7 linked regions of the Homo sapiens genome follow. The protein of the gene in region 1 purifies or fractionates together with the protein of each later gene. This does not show direct contact. Each region holds a gene or a part of one and is shown on either strand. Other genes may lie near its edges.

The links.
Region 2: the proteins of OR52B2 (region 1) and ZNF709 purify together in Homo sapiens (affinity purification with mass spectrometry; one large-scale study listed by BioGRID and IntAct). This does not show direct contact.
Region 3: the proteins of OR52B2 (region 1) and NDE1 purify together in Homo sapiens (affinity purification with mass spectrometry; one large-scale study listed by BioGRID and IntAct). This does not show direct contact.
Region 4: the proteins of OR52B2 (region 1) and KDM3B purify together in Homo sapiens (affinity purification with mass spectrometry; one large-scale study listed by BioGRID and IntAct). This does not show direct contact.
Region 5: the proteins of OR52B2 (region 1) and ZNF852 purify together in Homo sapiens (affinity purification with mass spectrometry; one large-scale study listed by BioGRID and IntAct). This does not show direct contact.
Region 6: the proteins of OR52B2 (region 1) and FAM81A purify together in Homo sapiens (affinity purification with mass spectrometry; one large-scale study listed by BioGRID and IntAct). This does not show direct contact.
Region 7: the proteins of OR52B2 (region 1) and PCCA purify together in Homo sapiens (affinity purification with mass spectrometry; one large-scale study listed by BioGRID and IntAct). This does not show direct contact.

What each region holds. Positions count from the first base shown.
Region 1 is NC_000011.10:6,168,855-6,171,602, reverse strand, and holds OR52B2 (olfactory receptor 52B2), read left to right. Parts: upstream 1-1,276; coding exon 1,277-2,248; downstream 2,249-2,748. UniProt on the Homo sapiens protein: Odorant receptor.
Region 2 is NC_000019.10:12,482,017-12,486,157, reverse strand, and holds the start of ZNF709 (zinc finger protein 709), read left to right. Parts: upstream 1-1,341; 5' UTR 1,342-1,500; coding exon 1,501-1,503; intron 1,504-4,141.
Region 3 is NC_000016.10:15,691,745-15,695,244, forward strand, and holds part of NDE1 (nuclear distribution protein nudE homolog 1), read left to right. Parts: intron 1-65; coding exon of another isoform or gene 66-124; exon of another isoform or gene 125-422; intron 423-2,420; coding exon 2,421-2,512; intron 2,513-3,500. UniProt on the Homo sapiens protein: Required for centrosome duplication and formation and function of the mitotic spindle. Essential for the development of the cerebral cortex.
Region 4 is NC_000005.10:138,422,185-138,425,684, reverse strand, and holds part of KDM3B (lysine-specific demethylase 3B), read right to left. Parts: intron 1,611-3,500; coding exon 1,344-1,610; intron 275-1,343; coding exon 103-274; intron 1-102. UniProt on the Homo sapiens protein: Histone demethylase that specifically demethylates 'Lys-9' of histone H3, thereby playing a central role in histone code. Demethylation of Lys residue generates formaldehyde and succinate. May have tumor suppressor activity.
Region 5 is NC_000003.12:44,507,818-44,511,776, reverse strand, and holds the start of ZNF852 (zinc finger protein 852), read left to right. Parts: upstream 1-1,159; 5' UTR 1,160-1,224; intron 1,225-3,959. UniProt on the Homo sapiens protein: May be involved in transcriptional regulation.
Region 6 is NC_000015.10:59,437,022-59,440,985, forward strand, and holds the start of FAM81A (protein FAM81A), read left to right. Parts: upstream 1-1,164; 5' UTR 1,165-1,261; exon of another isoform or gene 1,262-1,609; intron 1,610-1,634; exon of another isoform or gene 1,635-2,043; intron 2,044-2,933; exon of another isoform or gene 2,934-3,102; intron 3,103-3,964.
Region 7 is NC_000013.11:100,305,593-100,309,092, forward strand, and holds part of PCCA (propionyl-CoA carboxylase alpha chain, mitochondrial isoform a precursor), read left to right. Parts: intron 1-158; exon of another isoform or gene 159-242; intron 243-1,599; coding exon 1,600-1,668; intron 1,669-3,500. UniProt on the Homo sapiens protein: This is one of the 2 subunits of the biotin-dependent propionyl-CoA carboxylase (PCC), a mitochondrial enzyme involved in the catabolism of odd chain fatty acids, branched-chain amino acids isoleucine, threonine, methionine, and valine and other metabolites.

The sequences.
Region 1 (2,748 bases):
CAGAGGGATGGACTAATAAACTGAGGATTTGATTCCTTTGCATCTCTTCTTTGGGGCCCTCTGAATACCATTATCAGAAGATCAGTCTAGTGTTTATTTGGTACCTTTATAGTTCTGATTCTCTCTTTACTGTCTCTGTGGTCCCTTTTCTTCATGTTCCCTTCTAGATTCTTAATCATACACTCTTTCCCTAGTCCTAATAGCTGACAGATAGTTCAGAACTTCAGAATGAAACAAATATTACCTGAGTGGCAGGCAAGCCAAGAAGGGCTCTATACTTAATCCTTCTTGGCAGCAGGGAAACATGGTTCCTTCTGAGCGTTGGGGAACAGTGGGGTGGGAAGAAGGGCAGTATTAGTGGAGTCAGCAGAGTTTACAGGTGGGCAATAGATTGATTTCTTTTGCTCAGAATCGTTTTCCTGGGGGGCTTCTACAGATAAGGAAGCCCAGACATAACCAAGAGGCTCCTGTATAGAAATATTTGAGGAGGAGCATGAGAAGTCCATGAGGAGCTGGTGATGAAAATTGCCTGTCTCAGTTTCATTGGCTGCCCCATTGCTCACTGCATTAGGGAAGATATGAATCTGGATCAGAGTGGAGAAATGTACCCCTCTAGGCTTCCTCTGGATTCCCACTTGATACTCTACTCCCTTGCACAAGGGGCCAGAGGTGCAAGTGTCCTGTGAAATGTTCAAGGCAATAGCCAGATAAACTTAATAGGATTAAATATAACCCAGTTAAAATATAGTTTAGTTAATAGTTTTTTAGGAAGGAGATATATTGCTATGAACACAGACCATTACAAAGTGGTATGTCTTGAGGACTTATTTTAAGGTTAAAATTTTGTTAAACAGAAGTAGAAGGGGAGGGAAATTAAAGGTAAATGCAGAACAAAATCTTGGGGAAAGGGACAAGTACAACACAGGTAGGTGGAAAATGCTGCTTGTGTGGAAATAGTAGAATGAGGTCAGAAAGGGAGAGTGAGGCCAAACTCTGGGGGCAGGGTGGTTGCAGGAAGGTGCTGCCACTTCTGTTCATACTTGAAGCATTATTGCCACAGAAGCTCTATCTGCAAAGGAAGCACTATGGGCCAGAAGCCATTCCTATACCAAGTGAACATTCTCTGGGAGTACTTGCTGCTGGAGAGTCCAGCAATTTAGAAATCCATGCTGTCTTTTATGATATTTATACATATTCGGGAGTGCTTTCTGTTTCTATCACTTTCAGTAGACTCATCAGCTTCTAAGTCATTATAGAGAGGACCATAAAGTGCATCATGAGTCACACCAATGTTACCATCTTCCATCCTGCAGTTTTTGTCCTTCCTGGCATCCCTGGGTTGGAGGCTTATCACATTTGGCTGTCAATACCTCTTTGCCTCATTTACATCACTGCAGTCCTGGGAAACAGCATCCTGATAGTGGTTATTGTCATGGAACGTAACCTTCATGTGCCCATGTATTTCTTCCTCTCAATGCTGGCCGTCATGGACATCCTGCTGTCTACCACCACTGTGCCCAAGGCCCTAGCCATCTTTTGGCTTCAAGCACATAACATTGCTTTTGATGCCTGTGTCACCCAAGGCTTCTTTGTCCATATGATGTTTGTGGGGGAGTCAGCTATCCTGTTAGCCATGGCCTTTGATCGCTTTGTGGCCATTTGTGCCCCACTGAGATATACAACAGTGCTAACATGGCCTGTTGTGGGGAGGATTGCTCTGGCCGTCATCACCCGAAGCTTCTGCATCATCTTCCCAGTCATATTCTTGCTGAAGCGGCTGCCCTTCTGCCTAACCAACATTGTTCCTCACTCCTACTGTGAGCATATTGGAGTGGCTCGTTTAGCCTGTGCTGACATCACTGTTAACATTTGGTATGGCTTCTCAGTGCCCATTGTCATGGTCATCTTGGATGTTATCCTCATCGCTGTGTCTTACTCACTGATCCTCCGAGCAGTGTTTCGTTTGCCCTCCCAGGATGCTCGGCACAAGGCCCTCAGCACTTGTGGCTCCCACCTCTGTGTCATCCTTATGTTTTATGTTCCATCCTTCTTTACCTTATTGACCCATCATTTTGGGCGTAATATTCCTCAACATGTCCATATCTTGCTGGCCAATCTTTATGTGGCAGTGCCACCAATGCTGAACCCCATTGTCTATGGTGTGAAGACTAAGCAGATACGTGAGGGTGTAGCCCACCGGTTCTTTGACATCAAGACTTGGTGCTGTACCTCCCCTCTGGGCTCATGAATCTTCATGTCCAGCTCCTTCAAGGAAGCTAGATGTGAAATACAGAGATTTCCTGGACTGAGAAGGCTTTTCTTCCTCTTCTTTCTATTTCATCTTCCGCCCCCAACTTTTCTTTCTTTTCTCATAATTCTTCCTCCTTCTCTTGTTTGTTTTCTCTAACCTCTTTACATATTCCTCCCTACAACCCAGAAATAATAACTAAGTGTACATGCCTCTGATATGAGGCTTTGGTACCCTCAGTAGACTAGATAGACGCCAGAAGCGCAGGGATCTGAACACCACATGAAATGAGGTTATAAAGAAGTGGATAAAAATAATTTTATATTTACCATTTTAAGGGGTTTTAATTTTTTAAAAAAATCCCAAATGTGCATTGATTCTTTGTACAGAATCAAGTGGCCTGCCACCCACTACCACAATGGCAGGTGAGTTTGAGGAACAGCCATGCATGACCTTTGGTCATCTGGAAAAACTTCCTTTCCTTCAAATTTTAGTTCAAG
Region 2 (4,141 bases), on another chromosome or scaffold:
GCCATCATGCCCTGCCCATTAGTAGGTTTGATCCAATATCTTAAGTATATTGAGTTTCCTAGTACATGCCAAATTTACATAATCTTTTGTGGTTTTTTAAATAATCTCAGTGAAAATGGAATTAATTGCCTTATCGATATCATAGCCATTTACATTTCAAAATTCTCTAGGGGCTGGGTGCAGTGGCTCATGCCTGTAATCCTAACACTTTGGGAGGCTGAGGCCAGCAGATCACTTGAGCCCAGGAGTTCAAGATCAGCCTGGGTGAGATAGTGAGATGCTGTTTCTACAAAATAAAAATAAAAAGAAAGAAAGAAATTAGTCAAGCATGGTGGCACGTGCCTGAGGTTCCAGCTACTCAGGTGGCTGAGGTGGGAGGATTGCTTGAGCCCAGAAGGTCGAGGCTGCAGGGGGCTCTGATTGCACCACTGCATTCCAGCCTGAGGGACAAAGAAGGGCCCTGTCTCAAAAACAAAAACCACAAACCAAACAAACATAAAGGATCCACAAAAGTTCTCTAGGGACATAGTCAAAAACTGGTCCGAAATAAATATCCTTCCAGTGTTCAGTTTTACTGAACACATCTCATGGCTTTGGGTTTAACTGAATAATTCCTCACTGGGCACGGTGGTTCATGCCTGTAATCCCAACACTTTGGGAAGCCAAGGAGCATCACCTGAGCCCAGGAGTTCGAGACTAGCCTGTGCAACATAGTGAGACCACCCCACCACCGCCATCTCTACCGAAAAAAAAAAAAAAAGGAACTCCTTCTCTCAGACTAGGGCTGTGGGGTCCAAACTTCCCACTAGAGCAAAGTGTGGGGGGAGGGAAGGGATGGGTGACGGCCTAAACCCTGTCAGTTGTCAAAGATTAAAACGTAGTCACTCTTTGTTAGGTATGATGAGGTCACTCTGTCACTCTAAGTGTCTGTATTTGTAAACAAGAGTCAGAAATCCATGAATGGCCTCGCAGCCTTATGCTAAGTCTGGGAGCGTCTGACCCTTCCGTTCTAGTCTGGCATGGCCCGGGCGTCCTTTTTCGCTGTGGACAAAGAGCCTTTTTCTGGAAACTGAGCCTGGAATTTCCTGCGCTGTGCACGCTTGTGTCTCCGCGCTCAGAAGGAGCTGCAGGAAGACACCAGTGCCCGACCCCGGGTACGTTAACAAATTCTGCTTAGACGCAAATATCCGTGGCAGGGGAACAGATTCCTGACCCCGGACGAATGCAGGTTGCTTAGAGACGCGACTTCCCTACTAGCTGTCACTCAGGCAACGAAGGCGGGTCCAAGAGTGCAATGTCCAATCAGGGGCGCCGCCGGGAAGGCGGGCGGAGGGGCGCTGCGCAAACGGCGAGGGCGTGGCTACCAGCCGCTGCGCTCCGCTCTGGGGTCTCCTCACCCCAGAAGGCCCTCAGGTGGAGGAAGGGCCTCAGGTGGAGGTAGGACCTGTGCTGGCCGCGGGAGAGGTAAACAGAACACCAGGACATCCCAGAGTCTGGGAAATGGTAAGTGTGCGGGGCTGGGGGTCTTGAGATGGGAGAGAGGGGCGGGTTGAAACCGGCCGGATCTGGCTGTGGTGGGACCCAGGCCTCCCCGCCGTTGTCTCCCGGGTCTGTGGACCCGAGTCCTCCTGGCGCAGCTCGGCCCTCGGTCTCTTTGGCCGCAGGATGGGGCTGGGCCGGCAGCCGGGACCCCGGACGTCTTGTCAAGTCCCTGCGCGGCGACTGCGGCCCCAGTCCCGGAGCCCTCTCTGGGCAGCTCCGAGCCCGCAGCCTCGCGTCTCCCCAGATTGTGCTGGGGCACGGGAGGGTCATGGAGGGAATCCCGTCTCGGTCGTGGGGTTCGTGCGTGGGAGGAGCAGTGTTGTGTGGGGTCCTCAGTCCCTCTTTTCTTCCCAAGGGAGGACTCGTTTCTCAAGGTTTCCAAGTGTATGGGAAGCCAGATCTCAAACCCACGACCGTGTCCTCCAGCCTGGCTCTTCCCAGAGCTGGGATTAAATCCCTAAATTTCTAGATCTCTTTCAAATGCCAATGTCTTCTCTCCAGTTCACAACGTCGTTATTTCAACCAGACGCAGTATTTTAATTATCCTTTTTGTACAGAGGAATGGATGGTTCTTTTAAAAAGATTTAACGTATGCTTTGGGGTATTTATATGAGAGGAAAACAGAGGAGAAGGACTTGAAGCTACCTCGTGTAAAATGCTTGTGCCTCTCTTGCCAGTATCTCTCCTGGGACCTGACATCCTATGGGAACTCCTTTGGGTTGAGTCTCCTTTTTGGAAACTTTTCTGGGAGATCTGTCCTTTCCAGCGCAGCACTTCCCCTCCCTGGGCTTATCACCTTGAAAAGATTTACTCACTTAATTGATTCTCAAAAAATGTAAAATATACGTAATTAGGAGACCTACAGCCCAGCCAACATGGCGAAACCCCGTCTCTACTAAAAATATAAAAAATTAGCCGGGCGTGGTGGTGCACATCTGTAATCACGGCTACTCAGGAGGCTGAGGCAGGAGAATCACTTGAACCCGGGAGGCAGAGGTTGCAGTTGAGATGAGATTGCGCCACTGCACTACAGCCTCGGCGACAGAGTGAGACTCTGTCTCAAAAAAATAAAAAAATAAAATAAAATAAACCTTTAGAGTGGATGTAAAATATTTCCAAAGAGGCAAGAAAGAGATGGGTTTCAGAAAATAATAAAATATCAAGCTAGGAGCGTTGGCTCACGCCTGTAATCTCAGCACTTTGGGAGGCTGAGTCAGGAGGATCGCTTGAGCTCAGGAGTTCAAGACCAGCCTAGGTGACATAGAGAGACCTCATCTCTACTAGAAAAAAAAAAAAAAAAAAAAAAAATTAGCTGGGCGTAATGGCCTGCACTTGTAGTCCCAGCTACTTGGGAGGCCGAGGCGGGAGGATTGCTTGAGCCTGGGAAGTTGAGGCTGCTTTGAGCCTTGATCATGCCACTGCACTCCAGGCTGAGCAAGGTCTCACACCTTGTCTCAAAAACAGAAAATAATAATAATGAAATATCCCAGTATGATATTGCATTTATTAAAAATTTTTGTTTCTCTTTTTTTCTTCTGAGAATGTATAGCAAGTTCCTCAGGTCTGTTCTTTCCTTTTCGGTGATTTCAAATGGAATTCCATTCTGGGCTCAGGTTATCCACCTGCCTCAGCCTCCCCTTTGATTTCTTCAAACACAGGGTTTGTCTCATGTAAATATCAGTAGTGGTCCAGGTCACTTGACTGGAGAGCAAAGAGGACTCAGGTCAGTGACTCCAAGCTCTAAGACCAACCCTTGGGTCTCCCAAGGGATGTAATCGAAGGCCCAGTTGTTTCTTCCTAGGGAGCCTCCCCTGCAGGTGTCCTACCTGCTCATACCTACTGTGGAAGGAGCCCTTTGTACTGAGAGAAGCTGCTGAGCACTGGAAAGCTGGGGATCTGAATGCACGTTGGGGGATTGGCTGAATCCAGTGATGCCCTTCCTGAGGGCATAATTGTGGTTTCCTTGGGCCTATTTTTAGACATTAGGTTTGAGTTTTGCATCTGTTGTGTAGGTGCACTCAGTGTAATTTTTCTATAGTGAGAAAGTCTGTAAAGGCCAGGAGATCTGTCTCCTGGACACAGGATGAATGAACTGGGGAGTTCATTTGGGTCAGAACCTTAATCTCAGTCCAGTTGAGAGTTTCCTCACTTACAACAATTGAAGGGGCGATTTCCCTGTCACCAGGGGTGAGGGAATGTGTGGAGCTCGCTGAGTTCATTCCTTTGGCTCCTCAGGTGCCCCTGCCCTCTGTCACCAGGGACTGTCTCACTCTAAAGGTTGTTGCCCAACAGCAAGAATGTGGGCCCCAAGCTTGTGTATGTGTTTAGCTTTCTGAGTGTGGGTTTTCCTTCTGAATTGTGGAGAAGCAGTCTGCTAGTCTGAGCTGACTTGAGAGGGAGAGGGAGAGAGAGAGGGAGAGGGAGAGGGAGCGTGTGTGTGTGTGTGTGTGTGTGTGTGTTTGTGTGTGTGTGTGTGTATTTTAGAGGTGGGTTCTCACTTTGTTGGCCAGGCTGGTCTCAAACTGCTGGCCTCAAACAGTCCTCCCACCTTGGCCTCTCAAAGTGCTGGGATTACAGATGTGGCTTGGCTTTCCTTTCC
Region 3 (3,500 bases), on another chromosome or scaffold:
ATTCTCCCACCTCATCCTCCGGAGTAGCTGGGACTAAAGGCACCTGGCTAACTTTTGTATTTTAGGTGGAGACACAGTCTTGCCATGTCGCCCAGGCTGGTATCAAATTCCTGGACTCAAGTGATCCGCCCACCTCGGCTGATCCCAAAGTGCTGGGATTACAGGTGTGAGCCACCGCGCCTGGTCAAAAATCCTCTTGTTGAATATAAAACCTCCCAAATTTGAAATGTCACTGACCAAATACAAAAAAGTAAAAAGCGTTCTGTGGGTTTAGTAATACATCCACCGAGAGCTAGACTCAGCGTAACGTGTGCTGCATGGGCAGAAAAAAAGAATCTCAGTTCTCACCCCAGCCCCTCTGCTGACAGCTTCCGATCAGGCCTTTTACAGCAGATATTAATAACAGACAGTTAAGGAGTGCTCAGTGTGTGCTGGCCAGCCTGCAGCCTTCGCCGCAGGCCCAGGATGCAGGTGCTGTCCCCGTTTGATGAAAGTGAGGCTCTGAGTTAAGCAGAGTCATGAAGCAATTGAATGGCAGATGGTTTGGGATTCAGACCCAGGCAGGCAGGCTCCAGGGCTTACCCTACCATCTACTACCTTATCCCTTAGCTTGTCCCCTGGGCATGAAGAGACCAGTGAGACTTCTAGAATTCCGGTGCAGAGCCCTTCTGTTTAGTTTTGTTGAGATGGAGTTTTGCTCTGTTGCCCAGGCTGGAGTGCAATGGTGCGATATTGGCTCGCTGTAACCCCCTCCTCCCAGGTTCAAGTGATTCTCCTGCCTCAGCCTCCTGAGTAAGCTTGAATTACAGGTGCCCACCACCATGCCTGGCTAATCTTGTATTTTTAGTAGAGATGGGGTTTCACCATGTTGGCCGGGCTGGTCTCAAACTACTGACCTCAGGTGATCTGCCTGCCTCAGCCCCTGAAAGTGGTGGTATTACATGTATGAGTCACTGTGCCTAGCCCCAGTCTAGAGCCATTTTGCATACTTTATTTCATTGTTGTTTTTAGAGACACAGTCTTGGTCTGTGGCCCAGGCTGGAGTGCAGTGGTGCAATCATAGCTCACTGCAGCCTCCAACTCCTGGGCTCCAGTGATCCTCCTGCCTCAGCCTCCTGAGTAGCTGGGACTAGAGGCATGCAACTCCATGCCTGGCTATGTTTCCACACTTCAATATGCATGTAGCTTACCTGGGGATCTTGGTAGAATGTACCTCAGATCAAGTGGGTCTTGGGTGGGGCCTGAAATTTCTTTCTCTCTTTTTTTTTTTTTTTGAGACAAAGTCTTGCTCTGTCGGCCAGGCTGGAGTGCAGCGGCATTGATCTTGGCTCACTGCAGCCTCTGCCTCCTGGATTCAAGCGATTCTCATGCCTCAGCCTCCCGAGTAGCTGGGATTACAGGCAGGCACCTGTTACCATGCCCAGCTAATTTTGTATTTTTAGTAGAAACAAGATTTTGCCATGTTGGCCAGGCTGGTCTTGAACTCCTGACCTCAACTGATCGAACTGCCTCGGCCTCTGAAAGCACTGGGATTACAGGTGTGAGCTACTGTGCCTGGCCGAGAGATTCTGCATTTCTAACAGTTCTCATGTGCTGCTGGTGCATGGACCCCACTTGGAGAAGAGAGGCTCTGCAGAGCGGGACCCTTGTAAAGCTGGATCATCCTGTCTATAGTTCTTGTATCTATCACAGATGCCATTATGTTAATTAACTATATGGATTTTCTACAATTTCAAAAGGATTTGTTTTGGGTTTGTTTAAAAAGACTAATGTGGCTGGGCACGGTGGCTCATGCCTGTAAATACCAGCCCTTTGGGCGGCCAAGGTGGGAGGATCGCTTGAAACTAGGAGTTCATGATCAGCCTGGGCAACATAGTGAGACCCTGTCTCTATTAAAAAAAAAATTTGTTAAAGGCCAGGCATGGTGGCTCACGCCCGTAATCCCAGCACTTTTGGAGGCCAAGGCGGGCAGATCATTTGAGGTCAAGAGTTCGAGACCAGCCTGGACAACGTGATGGAACTCTGTCTCTACTAAAAATACAAAAATTAGCCGGGTGTGGTGGCACATGGCTATAATCCCAGCTACTCAAGAGGCCAAGGCAGGAGAATCGCTTGAACCTGGGAGGCGGAGGTTGCAGTGAGCTGAGATCACATCACCGCACTCCAGTCCGGGTGACAGAGCAAGACTAACATGTAAAAATAAGTATTTGTTGCAGTCATCACAAGGACTTGAAAAATTGGTTGTCATACGGGCCTTGGGTGTGTGATGCGGTTAACTACGGAAAGAAATAGGGTAGCTTTTGGGATCCGAGGAAAGGCGTCAGTGTCCCTCCTGTCCCGTGGTTTTGGATCTAGCGATGTTAACGCACAGACATGACTATAGGTTGGTGAGTTACATGCTCTTCCCTTTGCACACCCAGGCCTGGACGACTCCACCGGGGGGACCCCCCTCACACCTGCGGCCCGGATATCAGCCCTCAACATTGTGGGAGACCTACTGCGGAAAGTCGGGGTAAGACCACACTTTCCTGGCGTTTGGTGCCTTCCTGCCTGTCTTTCAGGATGTGTGAAGGGGGTTGATCTAGTTCCTTCCCTCTCTTCTTTTTTTCTTTTTTTTTAGAGACAGGGTCTTGCTCTGTTGCTCAGGCTGGAGTGTAGTGGTATGATCACAACTCACTGCAGCCTCAAAATCCTGGGTTCAAGCGATCCTCTCACCTTAGCTTCCCGAGGAGCTTGGACCACAGGTGTGCGCCACTATGCCTGGCTGATACTTTCATTTTTTTGTAGTAATGTGGGTATCGCTGTGTTGCCCAGGCTGGTCTTAAACTCCTGGCCTCAAGTGATCCTCCCAGGTTGGCCTCCCAAAGTTCTGGGATTACAGGCATGAGCCAATGCGTCCAGCCCCTTTCATAGCAGTGTGGTGAGTTTTAGGTGTGGCTGCTCCTTTAGCATCCCTGGGAATCATTAGAGCTTCCTGTGGGAGTTACTGCCAGACACTCAGAGCTCTGACTCGAAGCCCTGCTCTGAACCCTATGTATGTCTCTTTCCTTTTACCGTTTTTCCTCTAGGAAATTTGGGAAATTAGGGTGATATGTGTGTTTTTTCCTTAACTCGAAAAATTAAGGAGCACTTGGAAACTGCCTTCTCTTTTGGCCGGGTGCTCATACCTGTAATCCCAGTGCTTTGGGAGGCCAAGGTGGGAGATTACTTGAGCTCAGGAGTCTGACACCAGCCCGGGCAACATGGTGAAACCCCCTGCCCCGACTTGGCCTCTACAAGAATGCAAAAATTAGCCAGGCCTGATGGTGTACACTGGTGGTCCCAGCTACTCAGGAGGCTGAGAGGTGGGAGGATTGCTTCAGCCTGGGAGGTTGAGGCTGAGTGAGCTGAGATTCCAACACTGCACTCCATCCTGGGTGACAGCACGACGTTGTCTCAGAAGAGAAAAAAACTGCCACCTTTTTTTTTTTTTTTTTTTTTTTTGGTTTGTTTCTTGGGGT
Region 4 (3,500 bases), on another chromosome or scaffold:
ATTATGCCCCAGAATATAATTTATTATTCAAGGGCAGAGCTGGGCGTATAGATGCTTATTTTCCAGTCTGCTATCACTGAACTAGATATGAAAGCTACTTACTGCATATGATCTCGAAACCATCCCAGAAATCCCGAACTTTCACATCGGAAATTATAGCACAGTTCCTGCAGTTCACCAAGTCTACATCCTGGTCTCCAAATTCCTGGCTAAAGGCTTCTGGCTTCCAGAGCTCAGACTTGAGCTTTTTATGTACCCCCGAAACCAGCACTGGCTGTGGAAACAAAAATATCCCAATCAGAGCAATCTAGGAAAAACTTCCAGCTCTAGGGCTGAGACAGAATAGGAGGGTTTCCTGAGGAGGGCCTCCTCTTCTCCAGGAAGCTCTACTGTTCTTTCCTAGTTGTATAATCCATGGATTTCCACATGTCAACTAAAGTGAAAGGAAATGCTTCTACTCCATTGTTATGCTTCATTCTCACCCTGGGGAAATCACTTCTGTTGCCCTAATACCTACCATTGTTTTAAGGTGAAAGGACAAAAATCTGACAAGTCCAACTTTGAGAACACTTCCTCATATTGAAAATGACAATGCCATGAGCTCCCCTTCCTCAAGCACCTGCTAAAGTTTTTAAACTAGGGAGTGTTATCACACTATCAAAAAACTTGTGTGGCCTTAAAACATTTGCCTAGAAAAGTACTACCTACCTCCAACCCCTTCTCTGCCCCATCTTAAAATCACACTTAAGGATTTTTCTCTAAAGATATCAATGCCAGATCACCACCTAACAGAAATTTCAACTGCCTTTTTAAGAACACAGAACTATACAGCTTAGAAACAAGAGGATGCAAAGTGTGTTTTTAGTAATCTCCTTGCTTTTATTTATTTATTATTTATTTATTTTTGAGGTGGAATCTTGCTCTGTAGCCCAGGCTGGAATGTAGTGGTATGATCTTGGCTCACCGCACCCTCTGCTTCCCGGGTAAAGTGATTCTCCTGCCTCACCCTCTCAAGCAGCTGGGATTACAGGCACCCACCACCATGCCCAGCTAATTTTTTTTGTATTTTTAGTAGAGACAGGATTTCACCATGTTGGCCAAACTCCTGACCTCAGATGATGCGCCTGCCTTGGCCTCCCAAAGTGCTGAGATTACAGGCGTGAGCTATAGTGCCTGGCCATCTCCTTGCTTTTAAAAATCCAAGACAACTCGAAGTAGCAAGGCTATTACAATAACCTCACTATGTCTAAATCTCCCTGGCAAAAAGAGAGACCTGGAATTGTCCAGGTATCTGTGGTAGGCAGGCAGAGAATTGGCCCTTGGAACGACTTATTCTTGCTTACCTGACCTTGCTTCCAACACTCCCGGAAGATCTTCCAATTGTTTTTGTTGCTGGGGTCATGGAGACACAGAAGCCTCCCATCACAAAGCCAGGAGTGAGAAGTATGGGGATCTAGCACATTTAACCCCATCACCATCTCCTTCACTTCCTTCTGGGTATCAGTCAAGTTGCAGGCCCGCTTTGAAGCATCTGAGGTTTTCTTATTTTCTACCACTGAGGCAATGATGTGGTCAAGAAAGTTGGGTAGGCTGGCCTTGCTCTTCACTCCCTGCCAGACACAAATCCACCAGGTAAGCTTGACTGAGGCACCATGAGAACGGCATTCAAAAAACTGTCTCACAATTGTATTCACAAGGAGTTCTGACCTGTCTGATTAAATTCTACAAAAATTATTAAAATGTCTTTTACAACTGGAAGGGGGATAATAAGTCAACATCTTAAATTCTTTTATCCTTCATATTTTACCTTAACATTTAGGAAAGAAAAGTATAGAAAGATCCCTTTTGCCTCGAGAGATCTGAGACCTAAGAAATACCTTTGGCATCAGCCATTCAGTATACAAAGCACACATGCATGTAGACTGTAGGGATCATCAAATGCTGTAACTGAGTGTAAAAAGGTCACTCAGTTTGAGGGTTCTAAATTTTTCCTAACCAGCATGCCCAAGGGATACAATACTTCAATTAAGTAACTGAAGTGACTTATCAAGGCAATGGTTTTCTACCAGGGAGTACCTCAATGAAGGGTGTAGCAGAGTGTCCAAGAGGAAGTACATTCTGAAAGCAGTCTCCTACTCTCCAATTTTTTCCTCACTACCATCCCACTGAGAATCACTCACCTGTTTCAGCTGATGGGAAAGCTCAGGCCCAGAGATGAAAGTGACATACCTAAGGTCACAGAACTGAAGGTAGGGAAGCTTTTATAAACTGGATAATCCTATGCTTACAGTATTACTAATCCCTATCTCTATAAAGTATGTATAATTATGTAACATCATGGGAGAATTAGAAAAAGAACTGGCAGTATGATGAACAAGTATACATAAAACGGTACCCAAAGTAATTGTTTTGTTTGCTTTTTAAAATTTACTTATCCAGGCTGGGCACGGTGGCTCATGCCTGTTAATCCCAGCACTTTGGGAGGCCAAGGCAGGTGGATTACCTGAGGTCAGGAGTTCGAGACCAGCCTGGCCAACATGGTGGCCAACCCTGTCTCTACTAAAAATACAAAAATTATCCCAGTGTGGTGGCACGTGCCTGTAGTCCCAGCTACTTGCTCGGGAGGCTAAGGCAGGAGATTTGCTTGAACCTGGGAAGTGGAGGCTGCAGTGAGCTGAGATCGTGCCACTGCACTCCAGCTTGGGCAACAGAGTGAGACTGTCTCAAAAAAAAAAGTTACTTATCCAAAAGAGAAACAAATAACCCAAATTGTATAGAGGGCTCAGTCACCCACAGTTCATCACGTTTCAGCCATTAGTCATAAAACCCAAGAAGAAATGTATTTATGTATTCGCTTGAAATGATTTGCAGGACATATAAACTAAAAATCAGAATAGCAAGGTGTAGAACATTTAGGGGAAAAACATACATATGATAATATCTCGAGAAACACTGGAGACTTCTAGAAAGGGAAACAGGTGGTTGGGAGGCAAGGGTGCAAAGGAAACTTTTCAGTCGAAACCTTTTTTATTTTATTTATTTTTTTGAGATGGATCTCCCTCTGTCACCCAGGCTGGAGTGCGGTGGTGCGATCTTGGCTCACTGCAACTTCTGCCTCCCAGGTTCAGGCGATTCTCCTGCCTCAACCTCCCGAGTAGCTGGGATTATAAGCATGTGCCATCATGCCTGGCTAATTTTTGTAGTTTTTTAGAAAGAGTCAGGATTTTGCTACGTTGGTCAGGTTAGTCTCGAACTCCTGACCTCAAGTGATCTGTCCGCCTCAGCCTCCCAAAGTGCTGGGATTACAGGTGTGAGCCACTGTGCCCAGCCTCTTTTCTATCTTTTAGATATTGTACCTTATGAATTCATTCATTCAATAAATGCTTACTAAACATGACTGGATCAAACACCATGGCACTAGGGATATATTATAGAACAGTCAAAAATGCCTTTAGGAGAGGCAAGAAACAGAAAATCAAACATGTAATAGGTCAGATGGT
Region 5 (3,959 bases), on another chromosome or scaffold:
CTCCCTCTACAGGGACGTGGGACGGGAGAGCTTTTATGAAGCACAGTAGTGAAAAGACCAAAAGATTTGGATTCAGTGGCTATTCCAGTTACTGACTCTATTTCCTTGGGCAACTCAAATCAATGCATGGCAGCCAGTGTGTTATGAGCTACCGGAAGTATACAGAAAAGTACCAGAAAAAATACAAGCATTATCATCAGTCGCTGTCAATTAAATAACTCTGTTACATTTCAACAGTGTTCGTAACCACTTGACATTGATGTATTTGTGTAATTTCTATTATCTGTTTTTCCCACAAAGCTGTAGCTCCATCCAAAGTGGGCAACTGAGTGTCTTGGTCAGTCATGTGCAGCCTGATGACCCTTGAACAGTTGCAAAAGTGCGCCTAGGGCTTGTAGCATTTACTTAAAAGGGGATAATAAACTCTCACGGCCAGTGCTGGGCTTATTGCCTTGTTTGGGAATTTCTCCATTCAAGGGTTTTATGTTTGGGGATGTGCTGGCCCTATTTTTTTGTTTGTTTGTTTTTTGAGACGGAGTCTGGCTCTGTCTCCCAGGCTGGAGTGCAGTGGCACGATCTCGGCTCACTGCAACCTCCGCCTCCCAGGTTCAAACGATTCTCCTGCCTCAGCCGCCGAAGTAGCTGCGATTACAGGCGCCGCGCCACCACACCCAGCTACTTTTTTTTTATTTTTAGTAGACACGGGGTTTCACCGTGTTAGCCACCGATCTCCTGACCTCGTGATCCGCCCACCTCGGCTTCCCAAAGTTCTGGGATTACAGGCGTGAGCCACCGCGCCAGGCCGCTGGCTCTATTTTCACCGCTAGCTTTGGATCCCTTTCTTCCCTGAAGGAAAAGAGGCCTCCAGGGCAGCCGTGCAGAACCGATGGGAGGGATGTAGGATAATACGCCAAAGCCGATAGAGTTCTGGAGCGCGCCTGGGCATCAGAGCGTGGAAGACAAGTGTCCGCGGAAGGAGGCGAAGGATGCTGGACAAGCCCCGCCGCCCGCCGCCCGCCGCCCGCCGCCCGCCGCCCGCCGCCCGCCGCCAGCGGCCCTGGGCCCAGGGAGAAGCAGAGATGTTGGCCCTCCCAGTTTCCTAGAGAGGCCGCAGAGGGCCCGGGGAGGCGACGCGCGTGCGCAACTGGGGAAGCTGGGAGGTAGGCGCGGGGCGGTCGGCTGCGGTGGCGGCGTTTGGATGATTGTCTCTCGGCGGCGGAGTCGGTGAGCGGCCCGGCGGGGCGCGGGGTGCGGAGCGGGGGCGGCTGTGCGTGCGAGAGTGGCAGGTGAGGCCGGGCCTGGAGGCTGCACCCGGGGCGGGGGTCTGGCCGTGGATCCCGCCCGGCCGCGCCGAGGGCATACCTCTTCGCCCCCCGGGCGTCTGGGGCAGAGAATCTGGAAAATTCCCGGTTTCTTCTGGCTTTATCTTTTCACCCAATTATGCGAATAAAGCGTACTTATTAGAGACAATTAGATAAGTGGAAGAAAAGTGAAAGTAGCCACCGTCCGGAAATCTTAGTCTCCAGGTCTCCTGACATTGAAAACATCTGGCATAGACTTCTCCCTTTTTCTTGTCTTATTTCACTTCCTGGCACCTGTCGCCGTCTAACATAGCATGTATTTGTTTATTGGTTATCTTCCCATAAGCCCCTTGCCAGGGCAGTGCTTTCTGTTTGCTTTATTAACTGCTGTTACCTTAGTGTATGGGAAATAGTAGGTGCTCCTAGAAGGTGTTTGTTAAATTAATGAAAGAAGGAATATCTAAACTGGGAGACAAGAAGAATTGACAGTTTTTAATGTCTTTTTTTTTTTTTTAAATAGCCCATTGCCAAGTTAAGAATGTAAGAGTGACCTTGAGCCTGGAACATTTCCTTGCAGAGTTAGAGCCCTCACAGCCTGTGCTGCTGCATTTAATGCCTTGTGTCTTTCAGTGTTTCAGGCTTCATGTGTACTCCTTTGTTGTGTTTAATCTCTTAAGTCAGTGGCCTTCATTCATTCTCTCAGCCTTCTGTATTTCACACCCCATAGGAGTGGGGAGGGTGGATTGAGATCTTTCTTCCTTACTAAGTGGGGTGTGTGCATCACACCAGCCCTATAGCTGTGGAGTGGATCTGCTGGGTGTGGGGGCTCTTTGCATTGCAGGAGGCTGGATCTTGTTCCCTGTTTCTCCTTTTGCTGTAAGTATACGCTGTACCTCTTGGGGCCTGATGTGGTTGGTATCTGTCCTCAGCGACCTCAAATCATGTGCTATCCCTTCCTTGGATGGCCTTTTAATCTTGGCAGCACAGCCTGGCCACCTGGTGAATAGTGGAACAGTCATGGTGATGCATAAGGATCTAGTATGTTCCTTTTAGGTGCTGTATGGTATTTCATCCTATAAAAATGCTACTTTTATTTAGCCATATTGATGGACAAGTAGGTTAAATCCAGTATTATGTTATTACAGAGAATATTTTAGTAAATACCTGTGTAAATGTCTGAATACCCGTGCAAGTGTTTTTCAGGGCAGATTCTTACAAGTTAAATTCCTGTAGCGTAAGGAATATGTCTTTTTAGTTTTACTGTGGACTTTCAAACTATCCTTCCTGTTGGCTATTACATTTCCACATCTATTAGTGGTTTGTGTTTGGTGTTTTTTTCTTTTGCTTTTCTTTTGGACAGAGATTTTTTTCATATTGATGTATTCAAATATATTCACTCTTTTCATTTTGTTGTCTTAAGAAATTCTTGGTTACACCAGGGTTCTTAGAGTCTTTATGGTTTTTTTCTTTTTTTTTTTTGAGACAGAGTCTCACTCTGTGTCACCCAGGCTGGAGTGCAGTGGCACAATCTTGGATCACTGCAGCCTCTGCCTCCTGGGTTCAAGCAATTCTCTGCCTCAGCCTCCCGAGTATCTGAGATTACAGGCGCCTGCCACCACATCTGGCTTTTTTTTTTTTTAAAGTAGAGATGGGATTTCACCATCTTGGTTAGGTTGGTCTTGAACTCCTGACCTTGTGATCCACCCACCTTGGCCTCCCAAAGAGCTGGGATTACAGGCGTGAGCCACCGCACCCAGCCTTTTAGCTTTGTTTTTTAAGTTTCTTTATTTTTTGTGTGATTTTACTTACTATTTTTATTTGCCTAGCCAATTGTCCCAACACAATTCATTGACTAGTTTAATTTTTCCCACTGACTTGTAATGCTACTGTTACCAACTCTCAAGGGAAGTCGTTTGACTTCAGTGGGTCCTTTACCTGCCTGGTGGTGTTCATGCCAATAAAATGAGACCAAGTTTCGTTAAGCAGTGCAGAAACTTTATTTGTTGATGAAGGAATGGAGAAGGAAAAGCTCATGCTCAAAGTACCCTCCTCTGGGTGTGGTGAAGAGGGATTTTTAAGGTCTCTTAGGGCATGTAGTGGGGCAGAGATCCTGGAAAGAGGTGGGGCCCTATGGGAAGAACTGGAGTGTGCTCAGTCTCATTCTTTTTTCTTTCTTTCTTTCTTTTTTTTTCTTTTGCGATGGAGTTTTGCTCTTGTTGCCCAGGCTGGAGTGCAATGGCTTGATCTTGGCTCACCGCAACCTCCGCCTCCCAGGTTCAAGCAGTTCTCCTGTCTCAGCCCCCCAAATAGCTGGGATTACAGGCATGTACCACATGCCTGGCTAATTTAGTATTTTTAATAGAGACGGGGTTTCTCCATGTTGGTCAGGAGGGTCTTGAACTCCTGACCTCAGGTGATCCACCCGCCTTGGCCTCCCAAAGTGCTGGGATTACAGACGTGAGCCACCGCGCCTGGCCAGTCTCATTGTTTCTTTTGTACCCAGCACTATATGTGCCTAGCAAGTGTATTTCTCCCTTCTAGGTGGAGATTTTAATATGGTAATGAAGCAAGGATTCAGGCCTGGGTAGCACTGCTGAGCTAAGTTCTCCTTTGTGGTTACTGATATTTAGCCTTTTTCTCTCTAAGCAAGCACAGCTG
Region 6 (3,964 bases), on another chromosome or scaffold:
AATGAATGTTACAGATGCGTTAGCGCTTTGTGGAAGTTATTAGCCCGTTTTACTGGTGAGGAAACAGTCGCAGAATACCCACAAATATTTCAAAGATCACACACAAATAACAGTCCTTAATACTAATAGCCCCTAAATAATAATGCTGCCGGAGAGAGAATTCCAAAACCGCTCAGCCGAATCCACAGTTCGGGCTCTTCTACCATGTCGGGCTCCTTCCCCTGGGTTGGAAGGGCTCAGGCTGGGGCGGGGTGGGGGAGACAGACAGGAGCCCCTGTGCTGGGTAAGTACCAGTATCTGCGAAGGAGGCACGAACCAGATGAGGCAAAGGTCGTGTCCCCCGCAACTCCGCTGAAATCCTGCCCACCGAGAGGAAGCACAATTATGAGTGAATGGGCTTGTGCGTCCTGATGAGAATCCAAAATCGAGAGGAAGGTGGAAAGAGCCAGGACGCGCTGGGAGGGGATGAAGCTGACGGGAGAAGAAAGGGCTGGGAAGAGGAGGGGTGTTCGGGGTTCTTCTTCTCGTCGTGTCTGCTGCGATGAGACACGATCCTGGGTCCCAACTGCAGGTGTCAAGGCGATTCAGTAAATGACACATGGCAGCCCCGGAGGGTTCGTTCACCTGCACAGGTGGGGCGTCACCGTGGCCTAATCAAATAACTTCTCCCCAATTTGAGGTGGGGCGGGGGAGAGAACTATTTTTGTGGGAAAGCGGTTTAGTAAATAAGGTATATTGGGGCTCTAGAGAGAATTGCAGTGCCACCACCATGGCTATGATCTCCGTCAGGCACCATTTCAACACCTCTCCAAATCAACCATCCCTACAACAGGATTTATTTTCCAATGAGCGAAATCCCCGCCCGCCAACTCCAAGGCGCTTGGATGCGAGCTCTGTGGGAAACAGCAGCGACGAGCAGAGGCTATTTTGGGTGTGGGAACGAGGAGGGAGGAGGGGCGGCGCCGCCAGGCTGGGCGCGGGTGCGCGGGGAAAGCCTCCAGCTCGGGCTGCCACGGCAACCGCGTCCAGGCAACGCGCCCGGAAGCGGCTCCGGCGGCGCGCGGCGGCTCGCGCCCCCCGGGAGCCGCGAACCCGGCCGGGCCGCGCGCCGGGCCAGGCGGCAGGCGCGCGCTGATTGGACGGCGCTCCCCGCGGCGCGGGCCCGCAGCCGGGCGCCCTGCTCAGCCAGCGCCAGCGGCCGCCGCACCCAGCCGCGCCGGCGAGGACATGGGCAGCCGCGGCGCGCCCACCCCCCGCGCCGGTGAGTGCCGCGCTCTGGGAACCCCGGCCGGGCGGCCTCTGGGGCTGGGCGGCGGGAGCTCTCTGGGACGGCCGGTGACCTTGGGGCAGCCTCTCAGGAGATAGGCGTGGGGTAGAGAGAGCTGCGCGTGGCCCATGTGACATGCCGCGGGCGAGAGGGTTAACTGCATGTGACGCGAAGGGCTGAAGTTGGGCACAGAGCGCAACTGGCGTTGCATTTTCGCGGGGGCTGCATGCTAGCGAACCAACCGACGCCCGGAGGGACTGTTTGGGGGAGCTGGGGTGGTGCACGGATTGCCAGGGGTAAAGGCGAGTCAGCCGACCCACTACTCAGAGTGAGTGACCTTGGGTAGGTTAACCATCTGCTCTTCCGCCCCTTCGCTTTTTCTCATCTTTCAAACGAGAGGCTAGGGGGTCTTTGCAGTTCCAGAATGCTGTTGTGCCATCCTACTGCGAGCTGAGAAAGAGCCCTAAAGTACGGTTCTGCAGGTACCGGAGATGCAAAGCTTAACCATGTTTATTCTAGGAGGGGTTTCCATTAATTGGCTCCTAAAGTGGTAAGAAATGTTATCGTTGTCTGGAAGATTATGGAGCAAGCAGTCGGTGGTCCGGAGAATGGCTTCTTAAGATGCACAGGTTAAAACCTCTTTGGTGCCCTAAAGACATGAACAAAATCAGGATTAATGCTCCTAAGTTCTTCTTTCCTGTAGTTAATCTAATAGGAAACTTTGTATTTGAACAGGTAAAATCAAAACCCAATCGTGGCAGGCAGCAGCAAATTAAGTGAGTCATTTCTTCAATGTGCACGAGGTTTATGTGTGTGTGTGCGCGCGTGTGTGTGTGTGCGTGTGTGCGCGTGCGCTCTCGTCCTCAGCTCAAAGTCTGCGTACGGCAGTGTTGGAAATTATTTCATAGGAGTAACCAGAAATAATGCTAGAATGATTCGAATCCACAAAAGTGCAGCTCTCTCAGAAGCAAGGGCAAACATTTGCAACTTGCTTTTAAAATAAGAGGTTTGTAGAGTAAATATATTCTTTATTGAGAACCATCCCCAGATTTGCACATTGTATCTGCCTTCTGGGCCCTGTCACTGAATGCGCGTGTGTGTATGTGTGTGTGTGTGTGTTGGGGGGGGCGGGTTCCTTGGCACTTATAATATTTTTAGCGTTGACTGGTACTAAAAAGGACACTTAGGCCCCCTTCCATATCCACTGTCTATAAACTTCCCTCTTCCACGGAGGGGAATGGAGGACGTACCCTCTCACAGGTACCCCTGGTTGCCCCTTCTGACTTTCTACTTAAAGCTACCCTTGATTTTCATTCGAATCTGATTTCATCTGTATAAGAACGTGGGTTGGGAAGACACAGTTTCCAATGCTAATGAATAAGCTTCTGCAAGCTTGTTTACCTGAGGGCTTAATAACCTTTAATGTGTTACATGTTAGAAATCTGATAGCATACGGATAGAAAAATACTTAGTGTCCAGGAATTCAACCATGAAGCCCTACCAACCATTTAATGAGCCACACTACATGGTGCTTGGAAACGTTATTAGCGCATTATTCAGCCTCCTCTCTCTGCAGGCCACTAGGCTGTGTCACTCCGACCTGGCTTTAAATGTCTTGTTTCTTGTATCCTGCAGCCACACTCTTGCATTTTCATTTTTTATGTAGCTGAACCCACCTTCTCTCCCGAGCACCAGAGCCTGAGTGAACAACTTGCCGCAGAAGAGCCTTCTCTAGTGTCCTCCACCGTCTCACCAGAGTAGGGATGCTCTTCCGCTTCTCCTTAGTGCTGCCTCCAAACCAATGCACCATCACCAACCAAGTCTCCTCTCGGAAGGTAGTGCTATCTGCTTGTGCCCCTACCCTCCTTCTTATCTTCTGGTCCAGTGCTTCCCAAACCTGGGGGCTCCTCAGAATCACCTGGGACATTTTGAAAAACTTGGTCTTTAGACTCTCTCAGATATACCAAATTAGAATCATTGGGGGCTGGGGCAGGGTGGGGGAGTAAGACCTAAAAATCCCTACTTTAAAAACAAACCCCAAAAGGAGGAGCAGCAGGAGACGATGAAGAGAAGGAACAGAACTCTCTGGGCAATTCTGATGTACACCCAGGTACAGTGGGGATCTCTTCACTTGATGCCCCAAAAAAGGGATAAACAAACAAAAAACGTGAGCAGCCAGCTTCATTCTCTTCTCTGCTTTGTCTCTTGCCAGTGACTTTGGGTTTTGTGTTGAAGCTCTCTTAATTCTTTGACCTTGAAGTTCCTCAACATCTATCCCAGTAGCCTCAGTTTCCACTTTGCTTCAACTAACATCTTGGACTTGTTCAGTCTTGAACAAGACTAAACCTTTGAGATCTTGAACTCGGACTTCAGCCTACTTAGCTGATACTACCCACATACTGCTCTGGATTTTAACCATCGCTGAGGACCCTGGTCCCTTAAGCACTTGCTGTTCCAATCCTTCAGCCCCTCTGTGACTCTGTTTCTCCACTTGGGGCATGTAAGTTGCTGGCCATTTCCATTCTGTCTGGGATCCCAGAATCCTTTGTTTCAATGTGTTGGGCTTCTTATATTTCAGTCCTCAATCCAAAATCACCCCCGCTTGCCTGCTTATTCTTCTCCCAGCCTGCCACATTATCTAGGAGGAAGTCACAAAGACCTTTGGACAGGTTCCATTGAAAATTTACGTTGGCTCTA
Region 7 (3,500 bases), on another chromosome or scaffold:
TCACTTTTTAGTACTAAAATTAAGAAAATGAAAACTCACAGATATATTTTCTGTTATGTAACCCGTTTACTAGTTGCCATTTTGGGGCTCTTTAATGTGGGGAAAAGGTAGATTGTGATTTTATTGCTTTTAAAGCTGCTCCATTAATTTTTTTCTAGTTTTTGTCAACACTGTGAATTTCATAGAACATCAGTTTATGTCCTGAAATATGTTTTCAGAAAATAGAAAGCCAAGTATATTTCGTAAGTGTGCTGAATGATTTTTGTTTATAATTAAGATTTTTGTATATGAATGTGAATACGAATACAGATATCTATATTTTTGTTTGTGCTTGCAAATACAGAAATAAAAGCCCTTCAGGTATGTTATAGTGTTCCTTTTACAACCTTACAAAGAGAATAATAGTAGTGTGAATTTTAAGAAAATGAAACTATCGCTTGTCTTCTGATGTCACCGTATAATAAAGCCATCATTATACCCTCATGTGGATATCCTAGACAAGAGGTTCTACATGTGGTCCCTTGATAATTGCCTAAATTAAAATATTAAAGGCCTAACAGCCGCTGTGTTGACCTTTTTCTGCCTTGCTGCAGACAGATGAGCTGCTGTTTATTAGGAAGGCTTCTTCCCACAGGTGGAAGGCTACGTGAGCTTCCGCTCTTCTCTTCCCACCCCTTTACAATGTTGGGCATCAAAGTCCTGCTGTTCCAGCAGCTTTGATTCAGTTCCTCCATCCTCAAGACCCCTAGGATGTGCCTGACAGTCTGAAGTATTTTGATTAGCTTTTAAATACTTCAGATTCCAAAACTTCTTTCTAATAATTTAATAAATGTTCTGTCCTCAGTAACTGCTCATTTTTAAAGTTTTGCATGGCTAACCTCCGTGCCTTGCTGCTGGTATCAAACTGGGAAATGAAAACAAGAATCAGTGATGTACTAACTCACTCGTTGGCTGGTTAACAGCAATCAGCCTCTTCAAAAGAATATTTTGAACTTGTGCTATCCCCCTACCCCCCACCCCAAGAAAATCACAAAATCAGAACTCTAATTGGGGCTTTACAAAGCAAAGCCATAGGAAAAGCTGTGTAAACATGAAAGCCTCAGGGGAGCAACAGTAACAGAAAAATAGTGTTTTACAGTTGAGAGGGTGAGGCAGAAAAGGAAAGTGTTACAGACATGAAAGGCCCAGGCCCACATTCCTATGGAGCTGAGGACCAGGCTTGACGAGGGGCCTCACTGGTGGGCTCAGAAGGGTCTGGCAGGGAGTGCAGTTAGCAAGGGCATCGTCCATGCCATGCTTCAGCTGGAAGACACCATCAGAGAGCCACAGCATCCTGGCATAGTGATGTAGGAAGTCTTCATTTTTTATTTTTTATTTTTGCTGTTTTTTAGTTTCGTCATTCAGTGGCAGAACAAAAAATGTGTTGCATTACATATTAACGGATCAAGATTTTAGATTGTTTTCCTATTTTCCAGAAGTTGAAATGTTATTTGAGATTGAAATTCTCTATCCATTTTCTCCATGGAAATGAAATTGGTGGTTACAAAAAAATATCTACACAATATGAATTACTTTTCTTTTTTTCTTTTTTTCTCCCAGGTCCGAGTGGACAGTGGCATCCAACCAGGAAGTGATATTAGCATTTATTATGATCCTATGATTTCAAAAGTTAGTTTAATTTCTCAATGGATTATTTGATTTCTTCGAAAAATCAATGATATTTAAAGAGTCTGAAACTGGGCCTTTATCTGAATCATAAGCTATAATTAAACAACTAATTATGCACTGATGTAAATGTGAAAGCAGAGCAGGTTTTTTCTCTTGAGAGAAAATTCAGCGTTATGTTAGTTTGTAGTACTCCTCCTCCCCAACTAAATCATGCCACACCATCACACACATGCATGAACAATAATAATAATAAACATCTAACCAGTGGTGCCAGCCTAACTCATTGCCATGAGAAGGAATTAAGGTTTTTTTTGGCCATTGGCAGAAATTACCTGAGATGGAAGTATGAATGAATGGCAAGAGTTGGGCTGATAGGCAGTGTTTGTTAGAGTACTTTTTGATCTTTTCTCTTCAGTTTTTACAAATTACCAATTATTTAAGTAGATGTGATGTAAGAGTATAAGATTTGTTTTGCCCACCTGTCTTTTTGAAGTTTGACTTTCCAGAATAAATGAATTGAATTTTTGGATCTTTAAACCCTTAAAACCGTATAAAGTGTAAAATGCTGTAATAATTAAGATTGTGGATTTTATTTTTATTTTATTATTATTTTTTTGAGATGGAGTCTCGCTCTGTCCGCCAGCCTGGAGTGCAGTGGCACGATCTTGGCTCACTGCAACCTCCGCCTCCCAGGTTCAAGCGATTCTCCTGCCTCAGCCTCCTGAGTAGCTGGGTGGCTCGTGCCACCAAGCCCAGCTAATTTTTTTTGTTTTTAGTAGAGATGGGGTTTCACCTTGTTAGCCAGGATGGTCTCCATCTCCTGACCTCGTGATCCGCCCGCCTCGGCCTCCCAAAGTTCTGGGATTACAGGCGTGAGCCACAATGGCCGGCCAGATTGTGGATTTTATTTTGAAAATTCTGTGTTCTCTGAAATGATACATCTGTATTGAGGAATGATTTGTTTTTCAAGCCTTGTTTCTCAAGATGGCTTTTCCCCAAGTGTCCTTTTTAATGTTATAGTTGCAGTAAACAAACACTTTTTTATCTGTCTTTCTTCAGTTAGGGTTTTAGTGCTTTTTTTTGGGATAGGGTCTCCCTTTTTCACCCAGGCTGGAGTGCAGTATCATGATCTTGGCTCAGTGCAGCCTTGACCTCCCAGGCTCAAGCGATCCACCTGCCTTAGCCACCCAAGTAGCTGGGACTACAGGTGTGTACTACCATGCAGGGCTATTTTTTTATATCTTTTGTAGAAATGGGGCTTCCTCATGTTACCCAGGCTGATCTCGAATACCTGAGCTCAAGCAATCCACCCGCCTCGGCCTCTCAAAGTGCTGGGATTACAAACGTGAGCCACCGTGGTTGGCCTAAGTTATTAGTAGTATTAAAATAAAATTTAGGTCTTTTGTTTATTAGAGAACCACCATTTAATTTAAAAATAAAACTATGTAAAAATATTATACGTTGATTTTTAAATATTCCATTTTTAGATGAATGTTTTTCTCTTCAGAAAAATGGCCTACAAATTAATTTTCAAATTTGCTTGATATTGAAGAGCTAGTAAAACCTACTAAAATAATCACAATCTATAGATTGGCTAATATAACTGCCAGAAAAATCTTTAATGAATAGTTAAGGTCTTATTTCATTGCCAAATTATAGAGATACATATAAGTAGGCACTAAATCATGTAGAATAGTAAGACTTTTCTGTTTTTTTGATTTCTGAAAAAGTACCATTTGCTTCTGTGTATATTATATGTAAAACTGCAAATGATTTCTAAGATAGTCGTCTTCTTTCTTTATACTTTTATTTTTGAAACTTTACTTTTTTTG